Regions from separate parts of the Homo sapiens genome. Here region 2 is linked to region 1. A link means that fine-mapping ties the variant in region 1 to the expression of a gene that starts in the linked region. Tissue or cell type: whole blood. Region 1 holds a variant in brackets; the other region holds the start of a gene. All regions are shown on one strand. Distances are from middle to middle. Region 1 overlaps MYO7B (myosin VIIB). Region 2 holds the start of MYO7B (myosin VIIB).

Region 1 (2,900 bases):
CTTATACCACCCAGGGAGATGGGGGCAGGTTCAGGGGGTCTAGGGGATCCAGGGACCCCAGGGACCCCAGGCACAGTGAGAGGAGGAGGAACACTCATGCCTCCAACACACCTGCCAGAACCCTGGGCTCTGGGGAGGGAAGGGCATTCCAGCTCAGGGAACAGCATATGCAAAAGCAGCAGTGTCAGCTGCTCATCCAGGAAGCCTCGAGGGGTGTGGGATGGCTGGAGCTGGGAGAGGAGAGATGGCGTCCAGGTTTCCAAGGGCTGTGGGGAGGCATAGAGGGTTCTGGGGTTTCAGAACCTGAGAGAAGCCTCTGGGAGGCAAGGGAAGCCTCAAGGCCCTTCTCATCCCTATGCTCTCTGGCCATCTCACCCTAGGGCCTGGCCTGCTGGCTAGGAGAGGCTGGTGTGGGGAGGCTGGGGGCTGAGGGAAGCCCACTCCACAGTCACCTGTCTGGGGTTAAAGGGGTGGGCGTGGGGCTCTGCTGACAGCTCAGCTTCCTCCTCAGGAACAAGTTTGTGGAGTTCGACATGAAGCCCGTGTGTAAGAGGTGCTACGAGAAGTTCCCGCTGGAGCTGAAGAAGCGGCTGAAGAAGCTGTCGGAGCTGACCTCCCGCAAGGCCCAGCCCAAGGCCACAGACCTCAACTCTGCCTGAAGGCCCTCTTGCGCAGCTGCCTCTCGGCCCCTCCGCCTTCTCCCCTCCTGCTGTCCATGCTTGGCCCCCTCGTCCCCATCCACCTGTGCCCTCCGCATCTTACCCTCCCTTTCTCTTTCCTCATTGCCTTCTCCCTTCCTGTTCCCTCATCTCTGCCTTCCCCATGTCTCTCCTCTCCTTGGCCGTGGCTTCTGTCTGTGAGGAGGCAGGAGCTGGGGAGTGGGAGCCTATGACCCCACGTCTGACAGCCATGTCCACCTGTGCCCACAGCTTCCGCCCACAGACCTCCAGGGACAGGAGCAAATTGCACCACAGCTCCCCGCCTGGCCTGGCCCTCCCCAGGCGGCTCAGTGGCTCATGCTGTCCTGTGAGAGCCCCTGCCCCAGAGCGGCCCCACTAAGCGCATGTGGCTCCTGGGCTACCCACAGCCAGGGCAGCCTGCTGGAGCCACAGGGCCAGGGCCATGCAGATGGAGGCCTCTGGGAGCCACCTCCAATCCCTCACCACTCACTCAACCAGTGGCACAGTGTCCTTGTGCCCACACTGAGCCAGCAAGTCCTGCTGTCCACACCCACAAGCTACCTGGAGGGACAGGACCCACCTCCATCCTTCGGAAGGCCTTCCTGGAATCCCACCTTGGCCTCCGCCCTCGGTTCCGCCCCGCCCCTCTCCCCCCGACCTTGGGGCTTGTGTCGAGCCCTTGGGTGGGGCCAGGAGGAGGTGATGGCGTCAGAGGAGGTGTGGTCAGAGGTGACTTGTTCCCACCTCCAGGGAGGACGCTTCGTCTTCGGCCAGCGCAGACCTGGTGTTTGTT[TGTTG/G]GGCTCACGCTTGCACAATGAAGGCTTGTTCACACAACCACAGCAGCCTGCGTGGTTTGTGGCGGGGGTCGGGGGTGGAGGGGATGGCAGCAGCTCTGGACACGCTGCTGCTGGGGCAGTTGAACAGAGGGACAGACATAGACAGGCACGAGTTCAGGGGGCCCTAGCCTCTATCCCAGGCCAGGCTGCCATAAGCAGTTGAAGACTAGCCCTGCCAGGTCCTCACAAGCCTGGGTGGCCAGGTCCACATAAGCTGGCCCAGTGGGCAGAGGAGGAGGTGGGCAGGGACAGGGCATGCCAGCGAGGTGGGGGAATCCAGGCCTCCAAGGTGCTATGTCCAGCTCTGCCCACTGTCTGTCTGGGCATAAGCTGGCCATAGCATGAAGCCAGCAGCCAGAGAGCCGCACCTCCACCCTGGCCTCCTGGGGGTAGCGCAGGCGTATCAATGCCCCGGGTGGGGAGAAGGACAGAAGGTGTGAGGAGGGGCCTGGGAGGAGAACTCTCCCATGAGTGCCCCTCCCCAGTCTGAGAAACAGGAAGGAAGGAAGGGAGGGGGAGGAAGGAAGCAGAAAGGGAGGGATGAAGTCATTTCTGGAGAATGCAGCTGCCCTCCGGGTTCCCTGGGGGAGTCAGTCACACGGCATTTTGGTTTTTCTGCAGCTCTCTGCGGGCCAGAGCCTCCCAGGCCCCCTGTCCACCTTGTGCCACACCCTGCTCCCTCAGACAGACACACTTCTCCTGCTCCAGGAGTTTTTATTGAACATTCTGGTGGGGTGGGGTGGGGTTGGGAGGTGTCCTGTCAGTCAGTCATCCACCAATAGCCTGGGGGTCCGAGACTCCCGACCCCATTCTGGGCCCGTCTTTTGGCCTCCCTGGGCAGCGCCCAGGACAGAGGGGGCCGCCTGCGGGGCTGAGTGGGCTTTGTATGGGGGGCAGCATGGAAGGCTGCCCGCCAAGGACAGGCCCTGGGTTGAGAGGGCCTGGGAAGGTGCCGCCAGGCTAGAGGTCGGGAAGGGCGCCTGAGCAGACACGCCAGCATCCGCTGCTAGGTGCTGGCCAGGGCTGGGGCCTTGGAGCCCCGCTGCTTGTTCATGGCACTCAGGAGCTGCTGCACATATGAGGTCAGCAGGTCATCCATCTTATAGCCCTGGACAGGGGACGGGGGGGTCAGAGGCTGTGGGTGCAGAGGGCAGGTGGGGGTCCTGGACTCAGGGACCACCTTCTCTTCCTCAGCAACCAGCAGTGCAGGGCATGGAGAAAGGGAAGGCGGGCTCCTGCCATTGGGGCCGTCATTTCTGCTTGCCCTGCTGGAGCTGGGTCTCCCTCCCTCCTTGGAATGGGCCAAGGGCGCAGGGGGTCCCGCCTGGCCTTGCCACCTTGGCTGCTGGTCCTGGGGATGCACCCAGGCCCTCTCCAGATCTGC
Region 2 (2,900 bases), 100 kb after region 1:
CTCTCCACAGAGCCCCGTGCTAGAGCTGTGGATGCAGCAGGCCCCAAGACAGCCGCCTGGGGAGGATTCTCTTAGAGGTGGCATCTGAGGACAGACGTAGGGCCCCCAGCAGGTCCAGGGAGATGGGGTGGGCTGATGAGCTGAGTGGTTCCTAACAATGATTCACTGAGGGTGTGTGTGAATCTCTGAACTAAAATCCTAAACAAAGTGCAGGGTTCTGATAAATTAGAGCAAAATTCAAGTCCAGGGTTACAAAGTGGAGCCTGAAGGGGAGGCCTCGTCATGGAGAATTTGGGGGATCTGGGTTGGGGGCCCCACACCCACCAGCTGTCTGACCTGGGCCAGCTCTCACAATCTCTGTGTCTCAAGTTTCGTCCTCTGTGAAATGGGGATGGGACACACACCACCTGGACAGCTCAAGGGGGACAGCCCATGTGAGCCCCGGTGCGGTCCCTCTCCTCAGCCACCTCTTCCCCCACCCCCCCCCCCACCACACCCCAGACCTGTCCTGCCTCTCCCTAGGGTCCCAGCCTTCCAGAGGTGACTAAAGCCAATTGCCCAAGGTACATGGGTAAGGCGGATAAGCCTGGGCTTTGGAGTCGAATCCGGCTCTGCTTCTTCCCGTGGGCACCTTCGCTTCCATGGTCCTCAGTCTCTGTGTCCATAAAATGGAGGCAATTCCACCACTGTGTTGCGAGGACGCAGTGGGATGTCACACACGGCACAGCTGACATCTGGCAGGGGCTCATCATGGGACCCAGGCTATCCATGATGTCCCATGATTCCACAGTGAGGCCCTCTAGCTGTGAGGAGGCTTCAGGGTGGGAGCAGCCTTGGCACCTGCCGTTCCCCTCCTGCAGGGAGTTTGCCCTTCTACAGCAGAGGGCTAGACAGCTTCTCCCCCTCCTCCTCCTCCTCAGCCCCCCAGGTGCTGCCCTTCAGCCCGATGGACTGAGTCCCCTGCTGCGGTTTCTGGTTTCCAGGCTCCTGAAGGGCTTCTCCACTCTCTATCCCTCAGACCTGTTCCATCTTATTTCCAGGGGACCTGCCTCCTGCCCAGCGACCCTCTTCAGAGAGGTGACCCCCTACTCCCCGCTGGCAGACACGCCCCCGGCACGCCCTTACCTTGTCAGGATGGGGGTCTGGCTGACTCCCCTTCCCCTCCACCCTGGGCACCCTGAAAGAGCCAGGAAAGGAGGCAATGTTGGGACTCCGGGTGTGTCAGGGAGTAAGGGACAGAGGAAGAAGAGGTAGGGCTCCAAGAGGAAATGACTGGGAGCACTCTGGGCCCACGTAATTTATTACAGGACTTTGTCCCTGGGCTCCAGGCACTTCCACTCCCACACGCCTCCCTCAGCCCCAGCTGGCAGAGCCTCATGATACCTGCTCTTTAACCCAGGCCCCTTCTGCAGAGCAGCGATGCATGCTGCCCGGAGGCCACCAGGGTTTGCAGTCTGTGCACCTGCTCTGGCCACCAGCCAGATCCCATGGTGACAGTCAGCTGACCATCCGGGGGCTCAGCATCTTCCCAGGTGCTGCATGGCAGGAGCTCTGCCCCCAAGCACCCCAAGCTCTAATTGAGGGTGGTAGTATAATATAAAATACAGTATATTTGGTCCTTGTTCCCGGTTGGTGTCACAGAACTCCTAAAACCCTTAGAATTTCCAAAGTGATCGTCGGGCATGGTGGCTCACGCCTGTAATCCCAGCATTTTGGGAGGCCGAGGCAGGCGGATCACAAGGTCAGGAGATCAAGACCATCCTGGCTAACACGGTGAAACCCCATCTCTACTAAAAACACACACACAAAAAAATTAGCTGGGCGTGGTGGCGGGCGCCTGTAGTCCCAGCTGGAGGTTGAGGAAGGAGAATGGCGTGAACCGGGGAGGTGGAGCTTGCAGTGAGCCAAGATCGGGCCACTGCACTCCAGCCTGGGTGACAGAGCGAGACTCCGTCTCAAACAAACAAACAAACAAAAAATTTCCCAAGTGATCATCTCATAATGAGTCCGTTTGATAACACCTGAAGTTATGCTGAGGAGGTGACCATGTGGGGGCCCTACCTAGCCTCAGCATGGGGTCAGTCACCAGAAAGACCTAGTGAATAGAGGGTTGGAACTTTCAGCCCCGCCTACTGACCTCTGGGAAGGTAAAACTCTTGAACAAGATTTGACAAGCTTCCACACATCTGAGGTCCCTGGGGGGTGGCATGCGGGAGAGGGCATGGAAGCTCCATGACCTTCCCACACAACTCACCTGTGCGTGTTTATTCGGCTGCTCATCTGTAATCCTTTGTAAAATCTTTTCCCACGAACTGGTCAATATGAGTGCCGTCCTGAGTTCCATGAGCTATGCTAGCAAATCCAACCTCAGGTGTGGGGCATGGGAACCCCGATTTATAGCCAATTGGTCAGAAGTATAGGTGGCAACCTAGGACTTGAGACTGCATTTGAAGTGGGGCAGTTTTGTGGGACTGAGCCCTTAACCTGTGGGATCTATGACTCCAGGTTGACAGTGTCTGATTGAATTGAATTATAGGACATCCAGACGGAGTCTGCTGGAGAACTGCTTGGACACCTGGTCAAGAGAGTGTTCTGTGTTGAGTGTGAAAGGAGCATACACCTGGGACATGTCTGGGGCCATCAGGAAGCCTTAGAGACAAAGGCCATCAGACAACAAGGTTCCCAGGAGGGTACCTGGCAACAAATTGGGCAGGCTTGGGCTGGCACTTGATCAAGGGGGATTTGGGCTTAAGGCAAATACAGACTGTTTAGAAGGGAAGTGCAACCGCAGTGGGCCCTGGGTGGGGTCAGACTGGAGGGGCCAGGCAGTCCCTGGAAGTGAGCAGGAGGGCGAGGGGAGCTCATTTATGCAAGGCTTTGAAGGCGGGTGGATAATAGGG

What was found. PIP is the estimated chance that this variant, and not a neighbour inherited with it, causes the effect.
Region 2: it holds the start of MYO7B, and the variant in region 1 is fine-mapped to the expression of MYO7B in whole blood (INTERVAL, PIP above 0.99). The same link has a PIP of 0.9 or more in neutrophils, prefrontal cortex and subcutaneous fat.

Annotation. Positions count from the first base shown.
Region 1 is chr2:127,637,040-127,639,939 of GRCh38, reverse strand. MYO7B (myosin VIIB) reads right to left here. Exons shown (of 48, transcript NM_001393586.1): 48 at 2,214-2,624. The coding sequence ends at 2,523. It overlaps LIMS2 (LIM zinc finger domain containing 2), which reads left to right. Exons shown (of 10, transcript NM_001161403.3): 10 at 512-1,514. The coding sequence ends at 659. Among named protein-coding and RNA genes, the nearest start is that of GPR17, 7.7 kb to the left of the region's middle. RefSeq lists enhancers at 301-1,246, 1,247-2,193, 2,194-2,900. The variant TGTTG/G (reference allele first, on the strand shown) is at 1,474.
Region 2 is chr2:127,534,057-127,536,956 of GRCh38, reverse strand. MYO7B (myosin VIIB) reads right to left here and starts at 1,274. Exons shown (of 48, transcript NM_001393586.1): 1 at 1,126-1,274. RefSeq lists an enhancer at 392-1,242.